7 linked regions of the Homo sapiens genome follow. The protein of the gene in region 5 purifies or fractionates together with the protein of the main gene of each other region. This does not show direct contact. Each region holds a gene or a part of one and is shown on either strand. Other genes may lie near its edges.

Region 1 (3,000 bases), on a different chromosome or scaffold from region 5:
ACTTGTTAAGTATAATGCAAATATTTCAAAATCTAAAATCCAAAACACTTCTGTTTCCAAGCATTTTGGATAATGGATACTCATAAAACTCTTCAAAGCCTGTGAGCACACACACGGGCACACACACATAATCCTGCAATGACATAGTTCTAAGGTTTGCAAACCAAGTTTTTTCTGGACATGGACTTTCCCCCCATATCTGCATGGTAATTTTGTATGTTAGTGAGTAGCCTTAAAGTCCCATAATTCTCTTGGGAGTAGAGCATTAAATAATGAACTTTAGCTATCTTTGTTTCATTATGTCTTGCTGAGTTTCTGCCATAGAAGAGATCGAGATGTCATTTCATCTGGGCCTTACTTTGCTCATCTGAGTTGTATTTGTTTGGGATGTGATTTGTAGAGGCCTTACTGGCTCCATGACAGGTCATCCCGAAGTAGAATATTTACTGCCTAAATAAAGCCAAACAGTTTGGGACTTTTTTTTTTGACACGGAGTCTCACTCTGTCACCCAGGCTGGAGTGCAGTGGCCGATCTCAGTTCACTGCAACCTCCGCCTCCCGGGTTCGAGCAATTCCCCTGCCTCAGGCTCCCGAGTAGCTGGGACTACAGGCATGTGCCACCACACCTGGCTAATTTTTTGTATTTCTTAGGAGAGATGGGGTTTCACCTTGTTGGCCAGGATGGTCTCGATCTCCTGCCCTTGTGATCCACCCGCCTTGGCCTCTCAAAGTGCTGGGATTACAGGTGTGAGCCACCACGCCTGGCCTTTTTTTTTTTTCTTTAAAGTTGTAAGACTACAGGAAATGGAGAGGCAGAGACAGTTTTGGAACCTATGTAGTCACCAGGAGAAACAACCTGTAAGATATTCATGTTACTTACTGCCTACTACACTAAAGTGAGGAATGCCAATGCAGGGAATTGGGAGAGGAGGAATGAGGATTGCTAAAGCAACTGCAAATAATTTATACTCCTGGATAACGGAATTTATTACATTTACATACTCTAAGTTCAAGAATGATTTACTCACAATTTAGTAATGACTTTGGAAAGTACAGTAAAATGTGTGAGCAGTTTTAGTTACATTATTATTTGTTGGAGTCTAAAGTACTCCACAGGTGTTTTGATACATGCCTGTTTGGGGTTAGCAATGTACTTTTCTGGTTAAACATCAATGGGGGTTACACATTTATCTTCTCAACAAAACAGGCTCCTCTAATATATGTAAATATGACTGGTCACCTTTTTCTCTTAAGCTAAATGTGATAGTTCTGGCTTTGCTTATTTGCTTTCTAGCAGCCTCCCCATGTTAGTCTTGCCACATGGTCAGTCTTCTGTTTGGTAGGTTTTATAAATCCTAAAAGTTCTAGTTCAGAAACAGCTCTAATAAACCGAGCACTGGAGGCTTTAATTAAGGAAACTGGCCGTGCTGTATTTTTGACAAAAAGGGATTAAAATCTCAATGTTAAAATACTAGTTGGTAAAATGAAGTAGATAGTTCAGATATAAACTCCTAAATTAAACTATAACTGTTACTGGAAAACATTAATTAGAATCCACTATCAATAAAACATAAATGGAAAAGTACTTAATGCTTCCTAAATCTAATGTTCTACATAGTATGGAAATTGCTCCCCGCCCCCACTTCTAAACGTACATTAGAAAAATAGAGAATTCAGACCAGGTCAGTGGCTCACACCTGTAATCCCAGCACTTTGGGAGGCCGAGGCAGGCAGATCACCTAAGGTCAGGAGTTCAAGACCAGCCTGGCCAACATGGTGAAATCCCATCTCCCCTAAAAATACAAAAATTAGCCAGGCATGGTGGCAGGCGCCTGTAATCCCAGCTATTTGGGAAGCTGAGGCAGGAGAATCGCTTGAACCCGGGAGGTGGAGGTTGCGGTGAGCCGAGATCGTGCCACTGCACTCCAGCTTGGGCAACAATAGCAAAACTCTGTCTCAAAAAAAAAAAAAAAAAAAAGAATTAGGCCGGGTGAGGTGGCTCACACCTATAATCCTAGCACTTTGGGAGGCCAAGGCGGGCGGATCACAAGGTCAGGAGTTCGAGACCAGCCTGGCCAACATGGTGAAACCCCGTCTCTACTAAAAATACAAAAATTAGCTGGGCTTGGTGGCAGGCACCTGTAATCCCAGCTACTTGGGAGGCTGAGGCAGGAGAATTGCTTGAACCCAGGAGGCGGACGTTGCAGTCAGCCAAGATCGCACTACTGCACTCCAGCTTGGGCGATAGACGAGACTCCGTCTCAAAAACAAACAAACAAACAAAAAAAACAAAAACCAAAAAAAGAGAATTCAATAATGGCAGTTTCATTTTTGGTAAATTTTAAAATATAATCTTGATATAAATTTGATACCAAAAGTTTTAGGTTTGGTCTCATTTTGGATTAAATTCAAAATAAAGATTCAGAAATTTCAGTTATTCTAGCACCATATGGTTAATATTAACAAGTAATACGGTTGTTTGGAGTACGCCTTTATAAATATCTAGTGTAGACCTGGAGAAATTATAAACTTATATTTTATGTGTAGTTGGACATTGTAGAAATGGTTTTAAAAGGATACTGGATAATTTCATTCATTTCTTCTGAGGTTGCAGAATTTGCATCCATTTTTTCAGCAGCTGTCACAACTGTTGCAAAAGCCTTTTGAATAGACAAGACAGAAGAAAATAAAAATGTCTACAGTTGCCAAACATCTTTTACTATACTTCTTTTAATGGCTGTTGATAGCTGGCACATATTCTTCATTATATCAAATTTAAGATTGTCAAAACTACACTGATGATCACTTTAAACCACTTATATATTAAAAGATAAAGTAATGGTTCCTGAATAATCTTGTTTCAGAGAACTAAGAGTATGCAGAGAAAAGAAACGAAGCTAGTCAAAGGTAAAAGAACAAGAAAGCCCTGTTTCCTCTACTAATCTTACTCCAGGAAAATATCTATTTTTCTTGGAAGCAGCCAATTATGGATATTTTTTA
Region 2 (4,091 bases), on a different chromosome or scaffold from region 5:
TGCCAGGATTTGAATCCAGATTGGCCTGCCTCTAAAGCCTGTGCTCTTTTTTTTTTTTTTTTTTTTTGAGACAGAGCGAGACTGTTGCCCAGGCTGGAGTGCAGTGGTGCGATTTTCTGCTCACCACAGCCACCTCCCAGGTTCAAGCGATTCTCCTGCCTCAGCCTCCCAAGTAGCTGGGACTACAGGCACGCACCACCATGCCCAGCTAATTTTTGTATTTTTAGTAGAGACAGGGTTTCACTATGTTGGCCAGGCCGGTTTCGAACTCCTGACCTCATGATCCTCCTGCCTCAGCTTCCCAAAGTGCTGGGATTACAGGCGTGAGCCACCACGCCCAGCTTAGGCTGTGCTCTTAAGGACAAATGATATTCTTCTTCTCCTGCTCTGGGCCCTAGTGACTCTTCAGGGACAACCACCACTAGCCGAATCTCTATTACAAAGGAAGCCCTTAGTCAACCTTATGGGAAAACCAGAATCCTACTCTGGAGTTAGGGGCAGCAAAAGAGGAGCCTCGCATAAAGAGGAGGTGTTCTCTCGGCTGGGGATTTCTACACCCACTTTCATTGCTTGAGGGCTTCCAAGCGCCAGGCCCAGAACTCTATGCTTTGTGGTATCATCTCATTTAATCTCTACAACAACCCTTTGGGGTCCCTGTCCCCACTTTCTAGGCTGAGGAAACTGAGGTTTAGAGAGATTGAGCAAGTCGATCCAAGTCCCAAGGATAGTAGCAGAGCTAGGACCTGAGCTACACTGTCCCATTCCAGAGCTAGACTTGTAACCACTATTCCCTCCATGAGTCTTTTCCTTGTTCGCTCTCCTCCAGGCATCCCAGGACCCCCAACCCCTCTGCTGTTCCTTAGCCACAATTCCAGGCTTTATGTTTGGAATTGTGGGTCCTTTCAGACCTGCCGAAAGATCTGGAGAAACTACACAGGTTTGACATCCAGTCCGTGGGCATGGTGGCTGTGAGATGCACCCCAGAACCCCAGGTCTCCCACTCTTCCATACACACACTGACACCACTTACCACTGGCGGACGCCAAGATCATGGCTTGCAGCATCTCTGTGTCAAACTGGTTGTTGGGCCAGGTGCCGGTGTCATCGCCATTTTGGGAGCTGGGGAGAGAGTAGGATGGTGAGCACAGACTCCCAGGCCGGCACAGCTCATGCCCCTCCTGTCCTCTCCCAGGGCTCCCAAACCTAGTACCCTAACCCTACCCCATGCCCAAGACCTGTTTCTCTCAGCAAGGTAGGAGGCACTTCTACAATCCTTCAGAAGCCAGAATCCCACAAGTCAGTCCCTCAAACCAGCTCTTTGCTGCCTCCGATGCTTTTTTCTTTTTGTTTTAGACAGGGTCTTACTCTGTCATCCAGGCTGGAGTGCAGTGGCGCGATCTTGGCTCATTGCAACATCCACCTCCTGGGTTCAAGCGATTCTCCTGCCTCAGTCTCCCAAGTAGCTGGGATGACAGGCACCTGCCACTGTGCCAGGCTAATTTTTGTATTTTTAGTACAGACGGGGTTTCACCATGTTGGCCAGGCTGGTCCAATGCATTGAACATAGTGCATTCCCCCACCCACCATGAGAGAGCCTGGCTTCCTGTCATAGTGAGGGAGATCAGACCTTCTCCAGAGGACTGTGAAGGTGGGAAATGGAAGAGAATGTTCCAGAGCTAGAGAAAAAGTGGGGACCTAGGAGGTACCTAGGGGGAGATGTAGGAGGCCCCAAGAGACCCTGGAGCAGGGAGAAGAAATTTCTAAAATTCAATGGCTTCCTAAGCCCTCAGAGTAAAATCCACGGCCATAGAAGAACCTGCCCCTCCTATTTTACAAGAACCCCCACCCCCCGCCCTCAAACACTCTATCATCAAACCTTTTCCAAGGTGCACTTTCCTATCCCTCAAGTTCCCTCTTGCTGTGAATCCTGGGCAGATGGTGTTCCCTAGAATGCCAGTCCCCCAACATTTGCCATGATGACACGAATAAAATATATCAGAGGAGATCCACTCAGACTGGGCAGGTGCCTCCACTGTACTCCCATCCCAGCGGCTGCCCCACATGGCACTAGTCACACTGCAGCTGTTGTAGTGCCTGTCTGTTCCTCCACCACACTGGCTTCTGTGAGGCAGCGACTCCACCTGCTTCCTACTGAAGCACCTAGCACAAAGCCTAGCACTTGGACCTAAGTGAGACTTTTAGAAACTCCGAGTGTTGAAAAAACATGAAATGATTCATAATTTAAAAAAATACTAAACCATAAGAAGAACTCTCTGCTTCTTAGAAGGTTCAGCTCTACTTGGAATTTTCCCACAGTGACAATTTTCATGATTTTTTTGAATTTCCAAGGATGAAATTATTTCAATTTGCAGGGGAGTGTTGGCGGGAAACAGCCCTGGCACACACACAGTCTGCCCTTTAGGTAACTGTTTGGCACCATCTGGCTCAGAGAAGTTTTTCAATAAATATTTGTTGCCTAAATGAGTGGGAAGAGACCAGCAGAGACAGTTAAGTGACTGTAAGGTAAGAAGAAGGGTTTGGCACCATGGGAAAGGCTGTAGGGTAGGCCTTGAAGGCATGAAAATGTCTGTGTGTGTGTTGCGTTGTGTGTGTGCATATTTTGTCATGGTGGGTGAGCACAACCAAGAACTGCTTTACAATTTTTCCAAGGTCTGTCCCTGCTTTTGGTTTTGCCCAATCTGGGATTCCCCGTCCCTAAGTAGATGAACTCAGCCTAAGAACAGACACAAGGCTGCCATGTGTGACCTCTATACCATCACAACAAACATAAAGCTAGGGTTGAAGGGGAAAGCAGGAATCTCAATTCTCCTTCCCAAAAGTGGGAAGAGTTGTAATTCTGTTTCCATTGATTCAATAATTATTTCTTTTCTTTTTTCTTTTTTTTTTTTTTTTGAGCTGGAGTCTCGCTCTGTCACCCAGGCTGGAGTACAGTGGCGCGATCTCGGCTCACTGCAACCTCTGCCTCCCAGGTTCAAGTGATTCTCCTGCCTCAGCCTCTTGAGCAGCTGGGACGACAAGTGCACACATGCCACCATGCCCAGCGAATTTTTGTATTTTTAGTAGAGATGGGGTTTCACCATATTGGCCAGGTTGGTTTCGAACTCCTGACCTCATGATCCACCTGCCTCCGCTTCCCAAAGTGCTGGAATTACAGGCGTGAGCCACCGCGCCCCTCCAACAATTCTTTCTTGAGCAATTTCTATGTACCAGACACAGAGCCAGGTGCTGGGGTTGTGGCTGTGAGTATGATAGAAACTGTCCATCTTTACGGTGCTCATGGTGGGCACTGAGAGGCTGATTTTAAATAATTACACAATAGAGTAATTGCAATTGTGATACTTGCCATGGGCTGTGTCAGGGGCTACCAGAGGGTATGAAGAGAGGCAGGGGCGGGCAGACCACGAGGTCAGGAGATCGAGACCATTCTGACCAACATGGTGAAACCCTGTCTCAACTAAAATAGATATTAAAAAAAAAAAATTAACCGGGCATGGTGGCACACGCCTGTAATCCCAGCTACTTGGGAGGCTGAGGCAGGAGAATCGCTTGAACCCAGGAGGTGAAGGTTGCCACTGCACTCCAGCCTGGCAACAGAGCTAGACTCCCTGTCAAAAAAAAAAAAAAGACAGAGAGTCAGGGTTAGGCAGCTCAGCCAGTCCAGGCTTCCCCAAGGAAAAGACAGTGAATTTAAATCTGAAGAAATCATCCAGGTAATTTTCAGAAGAATACCAGCAAATACATGTAGAAGGAATGACAGAACATCACCGCTTTGTAATCACTGATGTAAAAACAGATACAGGCAAGGATCATCAGGGAATACTAAAATTGCATGAAGGGTTGCTGCCTATCTCAAAGTATCATCCACAGATTACTTATATTTTCACAAATATTTTAAAATATCTTTATAAAAATATATTTTTATAATGGAGAGATCTGGGACACTGTTTTTACCACACGAACAAACTCGGCATCACTGATAGTGGGACAGGCCGACGTTAGATGAGTCCCAGTGTGATGCTGCGGGAAGTATTCCTACCAAGGTGTGTAATCTGAATCTAACCATCAGAGAA
Region 3 (4,091 bases), on a different chromosome or scaffold from region 5:
ACTATTTTAAAAAATAGGGACAGGGTCTCACACCATGTTGCCCAGGCTGGTCTCAAATCCCTGGGCTCAAGCAATTCCTCCTACCTTGGCCTCCCAAAGTGCCAGGATAACAGGCGTGAGACACACACCAAGCTCCTACAGTATCTGTATAACATAAGTCTTCCTGTCAATTCTCTACTCACAACTTTCTGTGAGCCCTCCATTTCATGCAGGATAAAAATGCAAGTCATGACCTGGCCCCTGCTCCCTTCCTGCCCTCACCTCTTACCACTCTAAGAGCTCCAGCTGCTGCCTTTCTGTCCTGAGCTAGCACAGCACCCTCCTGCTTCGGGCTCTTTGCATCTGTGGTTCTTTCAGCCTGGAGCACTCCGCCTCCAGTTTTTCTCATAGCTTGTTCCCTCCCTTCCTTCAGGTCTCTGCTCAAATGCTTCCTCACCAGAAAGGTCTCCGCTAACCTTGCTCTATGACATGACAATCTCCTATCCCCTTTATCCCAACTTTTTGTGACTATAAACATAGAGCTAATCGTCCCTTTTAATGATGGCAGAGTATTCCATCGTGAAAATGGATCACCATTTACTTGGCTAATCCTCCTTGGAAGGGCATTCAGATGATTACCAAGTTTTTTTTTTTTTAGAGATGGAGTTTCACTCTGTTGCCCAGGCTGGAGTGCAATGGCATGGTCTCGGCTCACTGCAACCTCTGCCTCCCGGGTTCAAGCAATTCTCCTGCCTCAGCCTCCAGAGTAGCTGGGACTACAGGCACATGCCACCACACCCAGGTAATTTTTTTTGTATTTTTAGTAGAGACAGGGTTTCACCATGTTGGTCAGGCTGGTCTTGAACTCCTGACCTCGTGATCCGCCTGCCTTGGCCTCCCAAAGTGCCGGGATTACAAGCCTGAGCCACTGCGCTTGGCCAATTACCAAGTTTTTGTAAGCAACTAATAAGGGGTCTTTTTTTCTCCACTCAGACCCAAAGTATCGACACTTACTAGGTTCAACTGCTGTTGATGAAAACTATTGACATTGTTTTAGTAAGGAGTCTTATTTAGAGAATTTCAACTGAGTTTTCAGGCATGGATGACTAAGATTACTTGCTACAAACATTTATTTTAGCTTCTCAGAATTAGTAATACTTCTAAACAAAACATTCTCAGTGGACTCTATCTTACATTTAAAAATATGACTCAAATATGGTCTTGATGTATCAAGATGATTATTTCCTTGCCCTGTTTGAGAAAGGTCAGACCCCTGTTCCCATCATTCACCATGGAAGACCTCCAAAGGGCTTCATGTTCATGGAAATGAGCCCAGCATTCCTAGGAAGGCCCCAGTGGGCTTATCATTTTGGTTTTTCACACAATACAGCATATTAGAAACCAAATCATATCAGGGGTTTATTTTTTCCCTTCCACATGTAGGTCTTCTCTCTTCCCCTACACATATCTATATTTTACTTATAGAATATAATCACATTACAAACTTTTGCAAAATAAGTGTTTTGTTGTTGTTTTGAATTCCATACCCCAACACTGTAGGCTTTTCAGGGGATTTTCTTCCAGACTATTTTCTTCTACTTTCATATTTATATCTTGCCTGCTTGGTTCCTGCATGGATGTGAGATGGCTCTCACCTTTGACCCTTTCAATCTATTCTTCACAAAGCAGCCAAAGCGATCTTTCTAAAATACAAATCAGATCATGTCACTGCTCTGCTGTAAATCCTACCAAGGGTTCACATTCCAAGTAGAAAAAAAAACCCAAACTCTTTCCTGTGGCTTACACAAAACCCTACATGATCTAGCCCCTGCCTACCTCTGGGACCTTATCTCTTCCCACTTTTCTCCTTGCTTGCTCCGCTCCAGCCACACTGGCCTTCTGTCTACCAGATACACATTCATGGTTTTTTTCTCATTAAAATGTAAGCTCCATGAGAGCAAGGCCACTGCTGTAACCCTTGGGCCTAGCAGAGTGCCTGGCATGTGAAAGACATTCAAGAAATATCTGTGAGACTAAGCAGGACTGCTTTGTTAAGGAGTCCCAGGTTTGAATATAGGGCTATGGGACTCTGGATTCCCCTTAAAATCTATTTTAGTGTCTCACAAAACTTTTCGCTAAACTCACCTTTTCAAAGTCACCTATTCAAACAGATCAAAGATCTCCACTGTGGGAGGAATGCCAAGGGCCGGGGTCAAGATCCCAAGGAACTAATTCTAGCTCTACCTCTACTAGCTGTGAGATCTTTAGCAAGGCACTTAGCTTCTCTGTTCTTTGGTCTCCCCATCTGTAAAATATGAGCATTATGTATATCTCCAAGGTCCCTTCTAGTGCTGATATGTCAGAACTCCCAAAGCTCTACCCTTAAAGAGGCTTTTTAGCAGCAAGGGGAGACTCTTCCCAGTTCTTGGGGCCATGCAAACACTTACTGTTGCAAATCCGCACTCCACCTTGCTGATTTTTTCAATGGATTCCACAGCATCTCTTCCGAGTTCTAGGAGGGTGGGATCCCCCGTGGCACGGTAGAGGTACATTGCGCTTTCAATAAGTTCTGCAAAGTCCAAAGCAGACCCTCCTCACTCAGTGGCTGCACAGAGATGGCCTGGGGCCTCTTAGGGCCGTGAGGGACTACTCCCCTCCATATCTTGTCCATAAGGCCCCAACTAGCAGGAACACAGGATACCTCACCCAGTGCTGAGTTTCAGAGCCAGTATACCCAAAGCTTGAAGCTCAGTGGAGACCAGCATTAAGGCTGACCAGTGACTTCCACCACAAGGGAGAGAAAGGTGGCCAGGTTCTGGCATAGAGAAGGTGGCGGAGGTTGTTGCCTAATTCCCAATATCTGTTCCCCGCTTCCTCCTTAGTAGCAGGATTCCTAACTTTAGCTAAGCACAGGCTGCCTGGCTGCCAACACTAACTATTCTAACAGCTAGGTGGGATTAAGGACACCATGGCGAGCCATATAAGCCCAGAACATGAGAGAGAAATACATTTCTATCCTAATTAAGCTACTATTTTTTTTCCTGTCACTCAGAGTCTAACCTAATTCTAAAACTCAAAAGAAGAGTAAGAGCTTGGCATCATAAGGCTCGTTCTAAGATAGGATGGACCAAAAGAAAAGGCTGAGATATCCAAGAGCAGGCCAGGCATGGTGGGTGGCTCATGCCTGTAATCCCAGCACTTTGGGAGGCCAAGGTGAGAGGATCGTTTGAACCCAGGAGTTTGAGACCAGCCTGGGCAACATGGCGAGATCTTGTCTCTACAAAAATTAAAAATGATTAGCTGGGTGTGGCATGCACCTGTAGTCCTAGCTACTCAGGAGGCTGAGGTAGGAGGATCACTTGAGCCCAGGAGTTTGAGGCTGCAGTGAGCCATGATTAAGCCACTGCGGCACTCCAGCCTGGATGACAAGAGTGAGACCTTATCTCAAAAAATAAAAATTAAAAAAATAAAATAAAATAAACCACCAAACCGTCAATCTAACAAAGACGTAGTCATCAGTTCACTGTGGCCAGAAAAAGTGATGTTTTGTCTTGCCCAATTCTATGCCACAACTGGAACTTGATGTTAAGACATGAGCTCTACCTTAAGATGAATATTAGCCAACAGGAGTGGGTCCAGATGAGAATATTTATTCTAGAGATAAGGAAATCCAAAAAAAATGTGTTTATTGCTTTCAAATACCTGAAGAACTGTTGTAGAGTTGACTTCAAGGGTGGCCTCAGCTCAGTATGTTTTTCTACTTCATCCATCTTTTCTAAGAGACAGAAGAACCCCTGTCTCCTTTCTATACCATCATCTCCCCCTGACCTTCTCCTGTCCTGTTTCCTCCTGGGCTTGATCAGTGCTTCTGTCCCTTTTGGCTTATTGCTGCAAACTCTGGTTCTTATTTTATTCCGTTAATTACTTTTTTGTGACAGAGTCTCACTCTGTCACCCAGGCTGGAGTGCCATGGTGCGATCTCCGCTCACTGCAACTCTGCCTCCTGGGTTCAAGGGATTCTCATGCCTCAACCTCCCAAGTAGCTGGAATTACAGGCATGCGCCACCAGCCCTGACTAATTTTTGTATTTTTAGTGGAGACAGGGTTTCGCC
Region 4 (4,091 bases), about 50 Mb from region 5:
AAATTCTGCAAACACCTTCCACAATATAAGAAAATTAAAAAATTAAAAAAAATTAAAGTGTTGGAAAAGTAGTTTTAAAAAATCAATCAAAATACACTGAACAAATAAAATACTAAAAGGTAAGTTGTCATTTCAACAGAAAATCAGGCTACCTTGCGCTACCTTAATATTTCCTTTTTAATACTCCCCCGACTCCCAATTAAATTATCATAATCTTTTAAGGCCAGTATTTCTGGTCTGAACAATTTTTTTTTTTCAGATAAGCACTTCTTTTACTTAGAGATGTATCCATTCTCATTTAGTTTGCTTATCATTATAAACATTATCAAAAAAACTGCATCTAACTTCAGTGTTTATTACAGGTTTCTTAGGCAAAAACTCTATAAATTTAAAATAATACTGCAATACCCTTTAGAAAAGCCCCTATTAGTTCACAAGCCAGTAAGTGATAGGGAACCGAATTCCTTTTTTAAACTCTTCCTCTCTTCTGGTCACAAAGGTTTCTCCATATAACCATATTTGCTGTCATTTTCTAGAAAGAGTAACTTCTCTCTTCCTCCAAAGACCTCAATCAACTCCTACTGCTTTTATACAGAAGTGGATGGCTGCAGAAATTCTGTCAGATAATGGCAGCTACCATGATGGTGTATCTTATTATGCAACAGATGTAAAGCACTTTATATGTACTGCCTTATTTAATCCCTACAGCAATCCTGCTAATACTGTCCCCATTGTACAGATGGGGACAATGCGAATCCAAGAGAATAACTTCTCCAAGAACACATGGCTAAATCAAAGTAAAGGGATTGAAAATATAGATTAAAATATGGATGGGGCCAGGTGCAGTGGGTCATGCCTGTAATTCCCAGCACTTTGGGAGGGTAAGGTGGGAGGACTGCTTGAGCTCAGAAGTTCAAGACCAGCCTGGACAACATAGTGAGATGTCATCTCTAGCAAAAATGAAAAAAATCAGCCAGCAAGATGACTCACTCCTGTGGTCCCAGCTACTCAGGAGGCTGAGACGGAAGGACTGCTTAAGCCCAGGAGGTGAGGCTGTGGTGAGTCATGATTGCGCCATTGCACTCCAGCCTGGGTGACAGAGTGAGACTCTGTCTAAAAAACAAACAAACAAAAAAAGGATGAAATCCTGAAATTCAGCCTTCTAACTAACAACATAAAAACTGGAAAGAAATTACTAAAATCCCTTCTTGGAACATACCCATTCACATCTAGAGTGGACTAGCACTGAAAGGCAATATAACCTTCTAAACCTACTTTCACAGGCATGCATGGTAAAAACTGTCAAAATCTCACCGGAGGGACTCTTGGAGGGTAAAGCTAGGTACTGATGAAAAATTCTTGGCCAGGCGTGGCAGCTCATGCCTGTAATCCCAGCATTTTGGGAGGCCGAGGCAGGTGGATCACCTGAGGTCGGGAGTTCGAGACCATCCTGGCCAACATGGTGAAACCCTGTCTCTACTAAAAATACAAAAATTAGCTGGGCGTGGTGGCAGGCACCTGTAATCCCAGCTACTCGGGAGGCTGAGGCAGGAGAATTGCTTGAACTCGGGAGGCAGAGGTTGCAGTGAACCGAGATCATGCCATTGCACTCCAGCCTGGGCGACAAGAGTGAAACTCCATCTCAAAAAAAAAAAAGAAAAAAGAAAAATTCTCATAATTACTTGGAGGAAGACTACCTGGCTTACCTCAGATTTATTGTAATAAGAGTTCTCTATATTCGGCATTCCAAGTTTCCCATATTTTATTTGCATATGGTTCACAAAGGACATGTGTATTTGAGTGGATGCTTTCCAGCTAAGATCATTAATGGCAATGTCCCAAATACATTAAACTGGCAATCTAGGACATTTGAAGGCTAAAGTAGGGGCAGTAATGTAGAGCTGAAAAAAACAGAAGGTAGTACCGTATGTGGGGGGGAAAAAAGCAACTCCACCATAATTTCCATTATATCTTCTCACATTGTTGAATAATACCCTTCCTTATTAAGACACAATTTTGATAAAGAAATTTCGATCTCTTTAATGAGATCCTTTTTAGTTTATACTTTCAGTTGAATCTCTCTAAACTAAATAATGTTATACCGAAGCTTAATGCTTCCTATATGAAGATTTTCAAGGGATAGAAACTGAATAATTCTTTACTTAATAACTGTGAAAGCATATACCTGTATGTCATACAGCAAAAACATGCAAACTTTTGAATTACCTCCAATAAAAAAATAGCAAAATGCATTTCCTATTCAAATACACTTAAAAGCAACTTCTTTAGTTGCTTTTATAAGAATACACATAAAATAAGAAAACATATAAAAGTTTTTGTGGTCAGCCAACAGTTCCTTTTAATGTCTAGTTGCAAATTTTTGATCTATAAACTTTCTTTTTAAAATGCTTTTCAGCCGGGTGCAGTGGCTCACACCTGTAATCCCAACACTTTGGGACGTCAAGGCAGGCAGATCATGAGGTCAGGGTATCGAGACTACCCCTGGCCAACATGCTAAAACCCCAACTCTACTAAAAATACAAAAATTAGCTAGGTGTGGTGGCACGTGCCTGTAGTCCCAGCCACTCAGGAGGCTGAGGCAAGAGAATTGCTTGAACCTGGGAGATGGAGGTTGCAGTGAACCAAGATCGCACCACTGCACTCCAGCCTGGGCTACAGAGCGAGACTCCATCTCAAAAAAGAGAATAATAATAATAAAATGAAATGGTTTTCAAGATCAACTTCTACAAGACTATAGGTAACAAAATTAAATACCCACATCCCACCTGGACAGTAATACAGAAACACTTAAATATACACAATTTTTAATAAAGAAAAACACAAATCAAAAGCCCAGAAATTATCAAGAAATATTCGGCTCCGCCGTCAGGATTTCAGGTCCAGCGAGGCTGAGTTAATGGCCAGAGTAGCAGAGTCCCCAATTTTAGTTCTACTTCCTCATTTACCGCGCTGCATAAACAGGTCTGTGGAAATTTAACCTCTCTGAGCTGCAGCTGCCTGATTTGTAAAACTGTGATTCCATTTTTGATATATTACAACAGAGTACTGCATCAGATAATTCCTCAAGCTATTTCTAGCTTAAAGATTTAAGTTTTATGTCTCCCTACTACTTAACGCCTTTATAACACTTCATTCTGTTTCTGCTACTTGATATTAATATATACTCTTAATTTTCAAATTTAAAAATATCTGAGGGCCAGGCGCGGTAGTTCACGCCTGTAATCCCAGCACTTTGGGAAGCAGAGGCAGGTCGATCACTTGAGGTCAGGAGTTCAAGACCAGCCTGGCCAACAGGGAGAAACCCTATCTCTATTAAAAAACAGAAAAATTAGCTGGGCATGGTGGTGTGCACCTGTAGTCCCAGCTACTTGGGAGGCTGAGACATGAGAACCGCTTGATCCTGGGAGGCAGAGGCCACAGTGAGAGGAGGTCACATCACTGCACCTCCAGCCTGGGTGACACAGTGAGACTGTCTCAAAAAAAAAAAAAAAAAATCAGGCTGAATGTGGTGGCTCACGCCTGTAATCCCAGCACTTTGGGAGGCCAAGGTGGGTGGATCACTGGAGGTTAGGAGTTTGAGACCAGTCAGGCCAACATGGTGAAACCCTGTCTCTATTAAAAATACAAAAATTAGCCTGATGTGGTGGCATGTGCCTGTAGTCCCAGCTACTTTGGGGGATGAGACAGGAGAATCGCTTGAACCCAGGAGGCAGAGGTTGCAGTGAGCCAAGATCGCGCCACTGTACTCCAGCCTGGGTGACAGAGCGAGACTCCGTCTCAAAAAATAAAATAAAATATAAATAAACAGATCTGACAACTAGAAGTATCTGTGAAAAAAGAAAAAAAATCAAGTAGCACATTTCCCCCCATTTAATATTAATAAGTGCTTGAGACTTTCATTTTTATCCTAAGACCTTGTAAAGATAAAAGACGACCTTTTGGCTTTTAAGTATTCTATACGCATGGGACACAAATTCAAACACCTTATAGGTAACCAGTGTATGAACTGGCCACTGTGAGATAACATGAAGAGAAAAGGCATCGGGTGATCTAGAAAGTGTCCATATTCC
Region 5 (4,091 bases):
CGGGCTACCAGTGGGTACCGATGGGGGAAGAAAGAGCCACACCCATTTCCACGGGGTCGAAGAGCCCCCGGAGTGAGAGAAGCATCTAGAAAGCCGGGGACAGAAGCAGCCTGGGAAAGGCTGCAGCTCTGGCAGCTCTCAGCCACCCAAGTCCTGATCCCGTCAGCACAGTGGGTGGCACGAGGCCGCAAAGCTCAGGGACAAGCCCCACGGCAGCCGTGCCGTCCTTGCTGTCCCAGGACCAGGGCCTCCCTCCGCCCGTGCTGAGCCCCCCATGCCCAGGGGCTTCTCACCTGCCAGGCGGCCGTTCACCATATTATGCTTCTTCCACAGCCAGAGGATGGCTTGGTCTGGGGTTTTCACCGAGTCCATGGATTCTTTAGCCATTTCCTCAAAGTGCTCACCACATTCCTTACACCCAAAGAAGGTGTGAACGTACCTCCTCATTGTCTGCAGCACAGCCTGGGGGTCGTCTTCAAAGCCTGCAGGGGAAGAAACACTGCTGACAACGGCAGGTGCGTGGGCATCACCTGACCCCACGCTTGTCCAGAGAGCCTGGGGGGAAACCGCTCCTGACATGTCGGGAAGCCACCTCATGTCTCCCCAGGGGCCTCAGGCTGTGGGCACAGACCAGAAGCCAGCACCTGCCAAGATGTCCAACACGCCCACGGGTGCTGCAGGCTCTGGAGACACAATGACTGTGGACAGCCCAGAGGGCGGACATGCTCCCCAGATGCCCTGGTGCCAGGAGGATGAGCCACGGACTCGGCCGCCAGGGCCCAAAGGAGCCCTTCCAGGGGCGCCTCCCACCTCCCACCAGTCTTCCAGCCGTCTGTGCCAGAACGCCCGGAGTGCCGCTCTTCCCCGGGATTTGCCAGCTGGGTGCAGTCTCTCTTGCCTTACAAGCAACTCTCAGGGGCTGGTACCAGGGCAATGACTCTGCTCATTCTAAACCTGCAGCTGTCGCGTTTGAAAGCCCTGCAGGACACCAGCCCAAGTGGGGACACGGCCTTAGGAAGTGACTCTTAAGCTGCCGCCAGCCACGGGCGTGAGGATGTGGAGCAGGTGGGCAGGCACAGGGACGGGTGCACCCACAGCCAGAGTTTGTGCCACCGAACGTATTAACAGACATGGACAGGCCGGGGCGCTTCCGCAGATACTGTGAATGAACAACACACATCTCAAGAAAGCAACACCTGCCCACAGGTGGCAGGAAGCAGCCAGCACCGCAACCAAGGGGAACCCCTGAGAAAACCAAGGGGGCAGCATGGGGCGGGGCTCGGCAGTCCCCACTCAGACGACTGACACAGGAGCTTGAACGCACAGATAGGAGACCCATGAGATTAAAACAGATTACATGTCAGCATTAAAAAAAGACATGCTTTCGCGAATGAATCCGTCTTCATCGACAGCAGGCCCTGGGGGAGCTTCCCGCGTGAGTGCAGGCCTGACGCTTGTCGTGGCTCCCTGCAAAACACAGCTGCGTGCAGGCCCTGACCTCAGCGTCCTGGTCGGTCCCAAATCCCGACACTTCTTGTTTATTTCACCCAGAAAGGTGAGAGCAGAGCAGAGCAGACCACCTCCTCCTCAGCCTTGAGCGTGTCCACGGGCAGCTGGGCGGTGTCTCAGATGGGACCGCAGGCGCTGGCCCTGTGACCCGGCCCGTCTGCCCTGCTCTCCTGCCGGGAGGGCTCCACAGACATCTGCCTTGCATCTCCACGTAATCCCCCTCCTCTTCCCCACATCACCGCAGGCGCGGGGCCACCCTAATCTTTAAAGTGGACAAGAACCATAAACCTCTACCTGTGGGAGGATTAGAGGCCTTCACAGGCATTTTACTAGATAGGGCTTAAACATACAGTAAAGAGAAGAAAAACCTTCCAAGACTTAATCCCGTGGTCGCCTCTGACCCAATTCTCTTGGCAGGAGGCTACTCCTGGAGGCTGCTTCCAATATGCTGATGGGCGGAAGGAGCGCTGAGGGTCTTGCTAGCAGTGTGCTTTGCCATCACACTGCTCTTACAATTCCACTACACTAGGGCTGGTCCTAGAAGAGTTTAAAATCAAATACCCCGGTCACTCAACTTCTCCCCTTGGCCAACACTGTACCCACACTGCCTTCAAGGAGCCGTTCCTCATGCCTGCGTGTGCCCGTGTGATCAGAGCAGACGGAAAGGGGGATGGCATGTCAGCTCATCTCCTCACCAGAACTTTCCATGTGTAAACGTGAGGTTTCCTAACTCAGGCTCACGCTTCAGAAGCAGTTTTGTTGTGTTTTTTTTTTTTTTTTTTTTTTGAGACAGTCTTGCTGTTGCCCAGGCTGGAGTGCAGTGGCATGATCTTGGCTCACTGCAACCTCCAGTGCTGGGATTACAGGTGTGAGCCTTGTGCACAGCTCAGAATCAGATTTACATGGTCTGGCTGGGCATTCGGTCGGAATCAGGTTTGCATGGTCTAGCTGGGCATTAGATCAGGCAGTGTGGATGCTGTGATTTCAATTTCTGTTTGGACAGCTCCCAAGGTTTCTCCCCAAAAACATACTACTCTTTTTTTCTGTATGATTATGAAAAGGATTTGAGGTTAAAACCCACCCTCTCCCCCAACCAGACCCCCGAGAAGCAGTAATCCAATATCACCTTGAGGAGGGCCAAAACAGATTTTCAGAAGGCCACTATAGTGCCCCCATCCCGGGACACTCTCCCATTAACAGGTGGAATCTATTTCTCTCACCACGAATTTAGGCTGGGTCAACAGGATGCGGCAGAAGTAATAATATGTGACTCCACACTGAGGTGGACTCTCAGGGGGTCCTGCCTGAACCTGGTGCTACTTGGTGGGGAAGCCACGTTCAGGAGTACGAGGCATTCCAAGGTCCCCTGGACTGACCAGCTGCCACCAGACGAAGGCAGACACACACGAGTGAGCCCAAGCAGCAACTCACAGAAGAACCGCCCAGCCGAGCCCAGCCCAAACTGCTGATCCACAGCATGATAAGCAAACAGTGGTGGCTGCTTTAAGCCCCAGCATTTTAGGTTAGTTTGTTATGTGGCAAAAAATAACCGTAAAGGAATTTGAGAATCTTACTGGAAAGAGCGTTGAACTGTGTGAGTCAAGACTCCACTTCGGCTTTGAAGTAAACATTAATGAACCTGAATTACTGCTTCAACTGGGAAGCACACACACAACAAAATTCAGGGGGGATAAAAAATCCAATACATACTTTAGTGTTCTGTGAAGGACAGAAAATTTGTTTTTATCTATTTCCTAGTAATTGAAAATTATTAAATCCAACTTCGAAGTTTTATAGGTTTTAACCCCTTGTGGTGGGCAGCCTCTGCGACGGTCCCCACAGATCACACCACCTATACTCACGCCTCCTGTAATGTCCTCCCCTTGCGAGTGGCCTGGGCCTGGGGACTGACTAGTAAGCAGAATCTGACAGAGGTGATGGAATATCATCCTCGGATAGGCACCCTCTCACTGGCTTGCTGATGAGGCTTGCTGCCATGATGTGAGCCGCCCGATGGAGAGGCCCTGAGCGTGGCCTGCAGTCAACAGCCAGCATGGAGCTCAGGGCCTTAGGCAAGCCACGTGCAAGGAGGCAGGCCCTGCTCTCTGCCCCATGAGGGTGCTGGGAAGCCACTCTCCCCAGGTGGGCCTTGGGTGACCCCCCAGGCCCAGCTGACACTCCGACTGCAGCCTGACCAATCCTGAAGAAGAGGACCCAGATGAGGCCATGCCCGGCCCTCAGAAACCATGAGCTCATAACCGTGCGTGGTTCCCGTGGTTCTGGCTGCTAAATTTTGGGGTGATTTGTTATACAACAGCTGATAATGAGAACACCTCTCCAAACAGATTTCACTTATTCTGTCTTTTTAAAGCAAAAAACAGGGAGTTTACACTGCAGGGAAACTCCCAGCCAGCACTCTTTCTTCTTTATGGTTTATTTCCTGCACGTTAGCCATGCACATCCTTGCGAGTTCTGACAAGGGGAACTCGTGCCCCCGCAGCCACAGCCCTGGGTGAGCTGACCGTGTGAGAGGAGTCTGAAGTGCCATTCCCCTGCCTCAGTGGCCTGGCGACATGCTGCCT
Region 6 (4,091 bases), on a different chromosome or scaffold from region 5:
AAGCCCAGACACTCAAGGATTTGGCTATAGTCACAGAGAAAGGGGTCTCCCTCATGGTGCCATTTCTTTCTGTAGATTCTTGCACCCACCCTCAGCGGGTCACTGGGTGTCCCCCAGCCCCTGATGATGTGATCCCTGATTCACCTTGCATGTGGGCTGTAGGAGGCTGCAGGGTGTCAGCTGGCAGCTTCACAGCGGGCACCCTTTCTGGGGGCTCAACCTGTGGGCCCCAACCTCCATAGCCCCTACCCTGGCTCTGTCTTCATGAGGTAACCCTATGTGTTCACCGCATGTGGTCATTTTCTTAGAGCTTACACGTCTATTCATCTGCAAAGCAGGCAGGGCAAAGTGACTCCCCTCTGTTTTTACAGATGAGGACACTGAGGCCTGGAGGGGGAGGACTGATGCCTTAGGTCACTTGGGGAGTCAGGCAAAGCTGGGACCAAAGGCCCCATGGAGCCGAATATGACCTAGTCCCTGCTGAGAAACTCTCCAAGCCCTCCCAACCCCTGACCCCCTCAGGGTGGGGCAGGAGAGGCAGCAGCATGCCTCTGGCTGTCAGGTTCAGCCAGGCTGAGCCTCAGTGCCCCCACCTGGATCTAGGGGGAAGGGGCAAGGTGGGACTTAAAGGTCTCGAAGGTTCTTCTGGTTCTAACATCCTGTGATTGATTGTCCCTAAATCTCTGACCCCTGTCAATCACTGTGGGTGATGGGGCACTTGCTGGCCTGTCTGTACTCATGTGTCTAGCTTTAGGGAGACAGGTTGGGGGTAGGGCCCTAACTCCACTAGAGAAAGGGGGACTGGAGGGTGCAGTCAGAGTGTCCACCATTAATCTGTCCCAGTGAGGCCCTTCCCAGCCTTTGTTAGAGTGGGTCTTGCTGAGCTGCTCAGAGAGGGCCCTAGGTCATGATAGGGTCACAGCAGTTGGGGCAAGGAGTAGAAGGCCTGGTGCTCTGACAGAGTTGCTGATCCAGCACATGCCACATGCCTTGGGGTGCTTGGCTCTGCACCTTTTTTACTGCAGGGGGCTGCCAGCTGTGACACCCTGGCCCCTGCCTCTCCTGATGGCCCCTCCCCACCCCAAGGTCCTGGACCAAGACACAGACGCCATTGCAGTCCATGTAGTCAGAGTGCTGACCTGCATCATGAGTGACTCCCCCTCGGCCAAGGTGAGGCTGCTGCACTGCAGCTTTAGTAGGGGTGCGGGGTGGAGTTCAACTGACCATATCCCCAGAACAGGCCTGGCCGGTGGCCATAAGCATCCTGCTCCCTGGAGCAAAGCAGGCGAGCTGGGAGGTGACTGCCCTGCCCTAAAGCTCACTGGGCAGGTGTGGTCGCCAGTCTGTCCTGGGAGCTGCATCTTCTCTGTCAGGGCTGGATGGGGAATGGACACTTGTAGGCCCACCTCCATCTACAGCCTTCTGAGATGTACTCACGTCCCCCCCATCCCTCTGCAGCCCACTGCCCACCAGCACTGTCACCCAGAGGCAGAGCTACGCAAGGGAACCCCAAAACATGATGCCCCTCCAGAGTTTCCAGGGGGTCTGAGTTTGCCCTCCGGCCCATGTATGTGTTCACTTCTTCCCCATACTACCTTACACAGGAGGTGTTTAAGGAGCGCATCGGCTACCCTCACCTGCAGGAGGTTCTGCAGAGCCATGGTCCCCCCACCCATCGGCTGTTGCAAGAGCTGCTCAACATGGTGAGGGAAGGGGCTTGGGACCAGGGTCCCAAAGGCAACCAGAACTGAGTCAGGGTTACCACAGATGGTGAGCTCTCCACCCTGGGGGACCGTATTGACTGCGGCCAGTACATACTGTTACCTGTAGCCTGGCCATGTCTGTTAGTGTCACTGGAATGAGGATTCTGGCCCTGTAGGGGTCCTGGAAGCAACTGCATGTGAGCAAGCCCCAGGATTATCTTAGGAACATGCAGTTAGGGGTTAGGCCAACCCAGGCTGAAAACTAAGGTTGAGGGATTAACAATGCTGAAGGACTCTTAGTAGTAGTGACTGTCATCTGTGCCCCTCTGACTTTCCTGAGCCTCACACACAACCTGTGGGCAGGATGGAGTAGATCATGTTGCTGACTGCTGCCGTAGGCAAGTAAATGGAGCCAGAAAGTCCCACTGTTGACAGGGTGCCACAGCTGACCAGGGACTGTCATTCTCTCCACCCACAGGCTGTGGAGGGTGACCACAGCATGTGCCCACCTCCACCAATCCGCAACGAGCAGCCGGTACTGGTGCTGGCGCAGTGGCTGCCGTCATTGCCCACCGCTGAGCTGCGGCTCTTCCTAGCGCAACGCCTCAGGTGGCTCTGTGACAGCTGCCCTGCCAGCCGTGCCACCTGTGTGCAGGCAGGCCTGGTGGGCTGCCTGTTGGAGACACTCAGCACAGGGCTAGCCCTGGAGGCCCGCTGCCAAGAGCAGCTGCTGGCACTGCTACAAGCACTGGGCCGTGTATCAATAAGGCCCATGGAGCTGCGTCACCTGCTGCGCCCCCGGCCAGGATTGGACTCGGAACCAGGCGGAGCTGAGGCTGGAAAGGCCCGACACGCAGGTGCTGTCATCCGCACATTATCAGGCATGGCCAGGCACCAGGGTCCTGCACGTGCTCTGCGCTACTTTGACCTCACGCCCAGCATGGCGGGCATCATGGTACCCCCTGTACAGCGATGGCCAGGGCCTGGCTTCACCTTTCATGCCTGGCTCTGTCTGCACCCTATGGATACAGCACCTACCCCTGCCCCCACCCGACCACTCCAGCGAAAGCAGCTGTACAGGTGGGTGACTGCCAGGGGCCAGGGACCTCCTGCCAGGGTGAGCAGGAACAAGCAGACATAACTGGCTTGCCTGCCCCCAGCTTCTTTACCAGCAGCGGCTCAGGGTTTGAGGCCTTCTTCACGGCGGCCGGGACCCTGGTGGTGGCTGTGTGCACACGGAAGGAGTATTTGACCATGAGTTTGCCCGAAGTGTCCTTTGCCGACTCTGCCTGGGTGAGACCCCATCCTTCTCATGTGGCCCAGTAGAGAGAGGGGTGCTGAGTCCCAAGTATGGCCTAATGTGAGGCTTCTGTTCTAGCACTGCGTGGCTATCGTCCATGTGCCTGGGCGCCGGCCCTTCAGCCAGAACCTGGTCCATGTCTACAAAGACGGCCATCTGGTCAAGACAGCACCCCTTCGCTGCCCCTCCCTCAGTGAGGTGTGCCAAGCAAGGTTTGGGGAGGCCTTGGGTAGATGGGAGGACTTGGAACACAGTGGGCAGGTGTAGCCTGGAGCCCTTGTGTCCCGTGCTGCCCCACAGGCCTGACTTTAGCCACTGGGGTCCATGCAGCCATGGGGGTCACTGTGAGGAACTGGTTGTAGGCGGAGCCCCAGGTTCTGCTGTGACCTGACCGCTCCCCCAACCCCGGCCCCACAGCCTTTCTCCTCCTGCTGTATCGGCTCCGCTGGATACCGCACAACGACCACCACCACAGGGCTGCCCACACCACCAGTCCCCGCCACCCTGGCCTACACTCACCCCGCCCTCACCCGCTCCCAGTCAGTCCCAGCCTCCACAGGGCTTGGCTGGGGGTCCGGGCTGGTGGCCCCCCTGCAGGAGGGCAGCATCGACTCTACCCTCGCAGGCACCCAGGACACTCGGTGGGGCAGCCCCACATCCCTGGAGGGTGAGCTGGGGGCTGTGGCCATCTTTCACGAAGCCCTGCAGGCGACGGCTCTGAGGACCCTGTGCACCCTGGGTATGCAGCATTCTCCATCTCTGCCACAGCCCCAGGCCAGAAGCTAGGGGTCCGGGGGGAGAAGGCATCTCTGGGGGTCTCTCCTGTGGTCAGGCAGTCTCTGGATGGGGTTTGGCCAGAGGCCTAGCAAGGTCTGAAGCCCCCTGCCCACCTCCCAGGGCCCAATGAGACGGCACCCTTCAAGCCTGAGGGGGAGCTGCATGAGCTCAGCACCAGGCTGCTCCTCCATTACTCACCTCAGGTATTTGGGGGCCCCAGGGGAGTGGTTGGCTCGACTGTGCTACTTCCCCGGCTCCCACACTCTGCCTGCCACCCCCTCCTCCCTCTGACCCTGGCTGCCTGCCCATTC
Region 7 (4,091 bases), on a different chromosome or scaffold from region 5:
ACTCAACCACTCTTGGTCTGGGGAGGATGGGGCCTCAAAAGAAGGGTCATGAACTTGGTTAATTAAAAATAATATGGCCAGAGGAATTTTTAAAAATTTTACAAGATCATGCTATTTGGCAAATTAAGTTTATGTTTTTTAAATTGTTCAAATCATCCATGATACAAAATTTGCAGTGACAATGAGCAGAAAATATAGCTGTGTAGTGTCAGCCCTTGTTAGGTTCCGTTAAGAAGCTTTTTCTTGTAGTTTTTATTATTATTTGTAATAGGAACTATTTTTCTCCCCACCCCATAAGCACATAGTATCCATGAAAATGTTCCGTTTATGAGCTTAAATGTTTCTTATTTTTTTTCCTATTTATTTTTGGTTATCATTATGACTGTAATTTAAAATTCATGCTACTTTTACAATGCAAAAATGAATTGAGGCTATTCAGTTATTATACTAAAGGCTTAGGAATCCATAGAGACTTAAGGCCTCCAATACTGTTGGCATTAATTTTTAATCAGTTAACAATATTTAATATGAGAGAAACATAAAACAGTGCAACTAAGCAATTTTAAAATCATCTACATTGACCTTTGTGTTGAATATATCAATTTGAAAAGAAAATGGTTAAGATTTTCCAGTAAAGCTTTTGGTTTTATAGTTATGCTTAGTTGGAGCTTAAAGATAGTATTAAAACATTATTCTTTTCTTCTTTCAAACAAAAAGAAACCCGTTGGGGACATGTTTAATGTATTTTTAAAAAATACATATTATCTAATGTAACATATTTAAAAAGAACAAAGCAGGGGAAAAATCTTCATCTGGCAACTATGCATTAACATCATACAATAATGTCGACTTTACGGAGTTCAGGCTCCATTTTACTTAAAGTTCTAGGAAGATTTGTCAAGGTTAAGTTTTTGCTGTCTCCAGTTCCCACCTGCCCTGGATAATACGAATGACAGGCTTGGTTTTTTACAGAGAATACTTATTTGATTGTCATGTAAATATATATTACCCCTAGTGAGGGTTATGCAGAGACAGATGAACTTCCTGGTCCAAACAGATAGTAATTTTTATCTTCAAAGGAAACCAAAAAGAGTATCCTTGGCAAATGTGCAATGAATAAAGTCTTGCTCTGCTCTATACAAGTTAATGCTCTCTAAACATCAAACATCTCCACATCTCCATGCCTGAAGTGAAGCTGTCAAAGACACACAGAATTTACAATTGTGAGAGATTCTTTGGTATGTAAATGAGCTGTTTCCTCATAAACTGCAGACTCTATCTCACTTACAATGTACTTTAAATATTACATTTAAATATATGTGGTTTAGATATTTTCTAATTTGTTATCTGTGCCAGAAGCTAGGGCATGTGGTTTTCACCCAAACAAGTTAAAGACATGATATTTTGACCTATAAGAACAAAGATAATTTAAATGGAGCAACCTGTTCTTTATAGGGGAAACTTGGTTTCATTTAGACAGCATGAAGCTGGAACTCATTGTGACAAACCAGTTTTATCTTTGCTACGCATTTGCTGCATCATTCTCCCCTCCCTGACACAGGTTACTGAAGTGTTGAGAAAAACAAAAGAAGGAAAAACTCTTAGTATTTCAAACTTAGTTTTAATATGGTCTAGGGCATTAGTGAGCTCGTGGATGTGAGAGATTCAGTTTCCATTTATACAGACGTTCAAAATACATATTTAGCAAACTTTCCTTGGAAAATTGTCTGTTGCCTTTGAAAATAAAATTATCATGTGATTAGGGGAATTTTCTGTTTGAGGAAGACATTTAATATAATGTCAAGACAAAAATAAGAGATATGAAGTGGCACTTCTCTGACATTCACTGCTGGAGCTATTATTTTTGCCCATGGTTATTCTGATTTAACCTATATATTATTGACTAGGGGAAAAAGCGTACTGTAAAATCTGAAAGTTACTACAGTATAGTAAAATGCCAAGTTTGTGAATTTAAATCTGCAGAAATATTAGGCATTGCATTTAGAAAAAGGCAAGTTACCTCCATCTGAAATATAACAAAATTTTAGATTCTATGGTATTAATTATCATCCTAGATGTAGATTTATGAAGCAGTATGTCATGCCAGAGGTTTGGTTTTATTCAATATTTTAATACCTATTACGTACCAAATTGAATGCCTGACAATGTGGACACAAAAATGAATGATAAAAGGTCCCTGCTACATTGCAAAACAAAAAGAAAAGAGCAAAAAATAACAGTGAGAATAAAGACTGGACAGATTATAAAACATTTGATTCCAATTTGAATTGCAGCCATGTCTCTTTTTATTGCACTTTGCTTTATTGCATGCCACAGATATTGCATTTTTCAAAGAAAATGAATAAAGCTATCACCACCATTTTTCCAACAGCATGCGTTCATTTCCTGTCTCTGTGTCACATTTTGGTAATTCTCACAGTATTTCAAATGTTTTCGTTATTGGTATGTCTGTTTCGGTGATCTGTGACCATTGTTCTTTGATATCAATATTGTAATTGTTTTAGGTCACCACAAGCTGCCCCTATATAAGATGGTGAATTTCATCAATAAATATGTGTGTTCTGACTGCTCCAACAACTAGACATTCCCACTATCTCTCCTTCTCCTCAGGCTTTTCTGTTCCCCGAGACACAACAATATTGAGATTAGGAAAATTAATAACCTACAACAGCCTCTAAGAATTCAAGTGAAAGGAAGAGTTGCATATCTTTACTTTCAATCAAAAGCTGAAAATAATTAAGCTTACTGAGGAAGGCATGCCAAAAGCCAAGATAGGCTGAAAGCTAGGCCTCTTGCACCAAACAGCCAAGTTGTGAATGCAAAGGAAAAGTTCTTGAAGGAAATTAAAAGTGCTACTGAACACATGAATGATAAGAAAGTGAAACAAACTTATTGCTGATGTGGAGAAAGTTTTAGTGGTCTGGATAGAAGATCCAACCAGCCAGAATTCTCTTTCAGCCAAAGCCTAATCCAGACCAAGGCCCTAAATCTCTTCAATTCTGTGAAGATGTGGAGAGGTAAGGAAGCTGCAGAAGAAAAGTTGGAAGCTAGCAGAGGTTGGTTCATGAGGTTTAAGAAAAGAAGCCATCTCCACAACATAAAAGTGCAAGGTGGAAGCAGCAAGGATTGATGTAGAAGCTGCAGCAAGTTATCCAGAAGATCTAGCTAAGATCATTGATGAAGGTGGCTACGCTAAACAACACATTTTCAATGTAGACTAAACAGTCCTCTATTAGAAGAAGATGCCATCCAGGACTTTCAGAGCTAGATAGGAGAAGTCAATGCCTGGCTCCAAAGCTTCAAAGTTTAGGCTGACTCTTGTTAGGGAATAATGCAGCTGGTGACTTCAAGTTGAAGCCAATGCTGGTTTACCATTATGACAATTCCAGGGCTCTAAAGAATTACAATAAATTTACTTTGCCTGTGCTCTATCAATGAGATAATAAAGCCTGCATGACAGCACATCTGTTTACAACATAGTTTACTGAATATTTTAAGCCCACTGTTGAGATTTACTACTCAAAAAAAAAATTCTTCCAAAGTATTTCTGCTTATTGACAATGCACCTGGTCACCCAAGAGCTCTGATGGTGATATACAAAAAGATTAATGTTGTTTTCGTGCCTAACAGAAGATCATTTTTGCAGCTCATGGCTCAAGAAGTAATTTTGATTTTCAAGACATTTTTTAAGAAATACATTTTGTGGGCCAGGCTCGGTGGCTCATGCCTATAATCCCAGCAATTTGGAGGCCAAGGTGGGTGGATCACCTGAGGTCAGGAGTTCAAGACCAGCCTGGCCAATGTGGTGAAACCCTGCCTGTACTAAAAATACAAAAAATCAGCTGGGCGTGGTGGCAGGCACCTGTAATCCCAGTTACTTGGGAGGCTGAGGCAGGAGAATTACTTGAACCCGGGTGGTGGAGGCTGCAGTGAGCCGAGATCGTGCCACTGCACTCCAGCCTGGGGAACAAGAGCAAAACTCTGTCTCAAAAAATAAAATAAAATAAAATAAAATAAAATAATAAAAAATTAAAAAAAACATTTTATAAGGCTATAGGTGACATAGGGAG

What was found.
Region 1: the proteins of QSOX2 (region 5) and ORC3 purify together in Homo sapiens (affinity purification with mass spectrometry; one large-scale study listed by BioGRID and IntAct). This does not show direct contact.
Region 2: the proteins of QSOX2 (region 5) and PCDHGB4 purify together in Homo sapiens (co-immunoprecipitation; one large-scale study listed by IntAct). This does not show direct contact.
Region 3: the proteins of QSOX2 (region 5) and EDEM2 purify together in Homo sapiens (co-immunoprecipitation; one large-scale study listed by IntAct). This does not show direct contact.
Region 4: the proteins of QSOX2 (region 5) and TUT7 purify together in Homo sapiens (affinity purification with mass spectrometry; one large-scale study listed by BioGRID and IntAct). This does not show direct contact.
Region 6: the proteins of QSOX2 (region 5) and NBEAL2 purify together in Homo sapiens (affinity purification with mass spectrometry; one large-scale study listed by BioGRID and IntAct). This does not show direct contact.
Region 7: the proteins of QSOX2 (region 5) and TRDN purify together in Homo sapiens (co-immunoprecipitation; one large-scale study listed by IntAct). This does not show direct contact.

Annotation. Positions count from the first base shown.
Region 1 is NC_000006.12:87,665,414-87,668,413, reverse strand, and holds the end of ORC3 (origin recognition complex subunit 3), read right to left. Parts: intron 2,661-3,000; coding exon 2,581-2,660; intron 1,404-2,580; coding exon of another isoform or gene 1,397-1,403; coding exon 1,291-1,396; 3' UTR 963-1,290; downstream 1-962. UniProt on the Homo sapiens protein: Component of the origin recognition complex (ORC) that binds origins of replication. DNA-binding is ATP-dependent. The specific DNA sequences that define origins of replication have not been identified yet.
Region 2 is NC_000005.10:141,502,421-141,506,511, reverse strand, and holds part of PCDHGB4 (protocadherin gamma-B4 isoform 1 precursor), read right to left. Parts: intron 1,120-4,091; coding exon 1,031-1,119; intron 1-1,030. Other genes in the region: PCDHGC5 (protocadherin gamma-C5 isoform 1 precursor), read right to left, coding at 1,031-1,119; PCDHGC4 (protocadherin gamma-C4 isoform 1 precursor), read right to left, coding at 1,031-1,119; PCDHGC3 (protocadherin gamma-C3 isoform 1 precursor), read right to left, coding at 1,031-1,119; PCDHGA12 (protocadherin gamma-A12 isoform 1 precursor), read right to left, coding at 1,031-1,119; PCDHGA11 (protocadherin gamma-A11 isoform 1 precursor), read right to left, coding at 1,031-1,119; PCDHGB7 (protocadherin gamma-B7 isoform 1 precursor), read right to left, coding at 1,031-1,119; PCDHGA10 (protocadherin gamma-A10 isoform 1 precursor), read right to left, coding at 1,031-1,119; PCDHGB6 (protocadherin gamma-B6 isoform 1 precursor), read right to left, coding at 1,031-1,119; PCDHGA9 (protocadherin gamma-A9 isoform 1 precursor), read right to left, coding at 1,031-1,119; PCDHGB5 (protocadherin gamma-B5 isoform 1 precursor), read right to left, coding at 1,031-1,119; and 11 more. UniProt on the Homo sapiens protein: Potential calcium-dependent cell-adhesion protein. May be involved in the establishment and maintenance of specific neuronal connections in the brain.
Region 3 is NC_000020.11:35,116,172-35,120,262, forward strand, and holds part of EDEM2 (ER degradation-enhancing alpha-mannosidase-like protein 2 isoform 1 precursor), read right to left. Parts: intron 2,549-4,091; coding exon 2,427-2,548; intron 1,037-2,426; exon of another isoform or gene 965-1,036; intron 1-964. Other genes in the region: MMP24-AS1-EDEM2 (ER degradation-enhancing alpha-mannosidase-like protein 2), read right to left, coding at 2,427-2,548. UniProt on the Homo sapiens protein: Involved in the endoplasmic reticulum-associated degradation (ERAD) pathway that targets misfolded glycoproteins for degradation in an N-glycan-dependent manner.
Region 4 is NC_000009.12:86,347,636-86,351,726, forward strand, and holds part of TUT7 (terminal uridylyltransferase 7), read right to left. Parts: intron 1-4,091. UniProt on the Homo sapiens protein: Uridylyltransferase that mediates the terminal uridylation of mRNAs with short (less than 25 nucleotides) poly(A) tails, hence facilitating global mRNA decay. Essential for both oocyte maturation and fertility.
Region 5 is NC_000009.12:136,210,971-136,215,061, forward strand, and holds part of QSOX2 (sulfhydryl oxidase 2 precursor), read right to left. Parts: intron 483-4,091; coding exon 294-482; intron 1-293. UniProt on the Homo sapiens protein: Catalyzes the oxidation of sulfhydryl groups in peptide and protein thiols to disulfides with the reduction of oxygen to hydrogen peroxide. May contribute to disulfide bond formation in a variety of secreted proteins.
Region 6 is NC_000003.12:46,992,851-46,996,941, forward strand, and holds part of NBEAL2 (neurobeachin-like protein 2), read left to right. Parts: intron 1-1,025; exon of another isoform or gene 1,026-1,065; coding exon of another isoform or gene 1,066-1,086; coding exon 1,087-1,170; intron 1,171-1,604; coding exon 1,605-1,703; intron 1,704-2,181; coding exon 2,182-2,783; intron 2,784-2,863; coding exon 2,864-2,996; intron 2,997-3,081; coding exon 3,082-3,201; intron 3,202-3,420; coding exon 3,421-3,742; intron 3,743-3,900; coding exon 3,901-3,983; intron 3,984-4,091. UniProt on the Homo sapiens protein: Probably involved in thrombopoiesis. Plays a role in the development or secretion of alpha-granules, that contain several growth factors important for platelet biogenesis.
Region 7 is NC_000006.12:123,626,864-123,630,954, reverse strand, and holds part of TRDN (triadin), read left to right. Parts: intron 1-4,091. UniProt on the Homo sapiens protein: Contributes to the regulation of lumenal Ca2+ release via the sarcoplasmic reticulum calcium release channels RYR1 and RYR2, a key step in triggering skeletal and heart muscle contraction.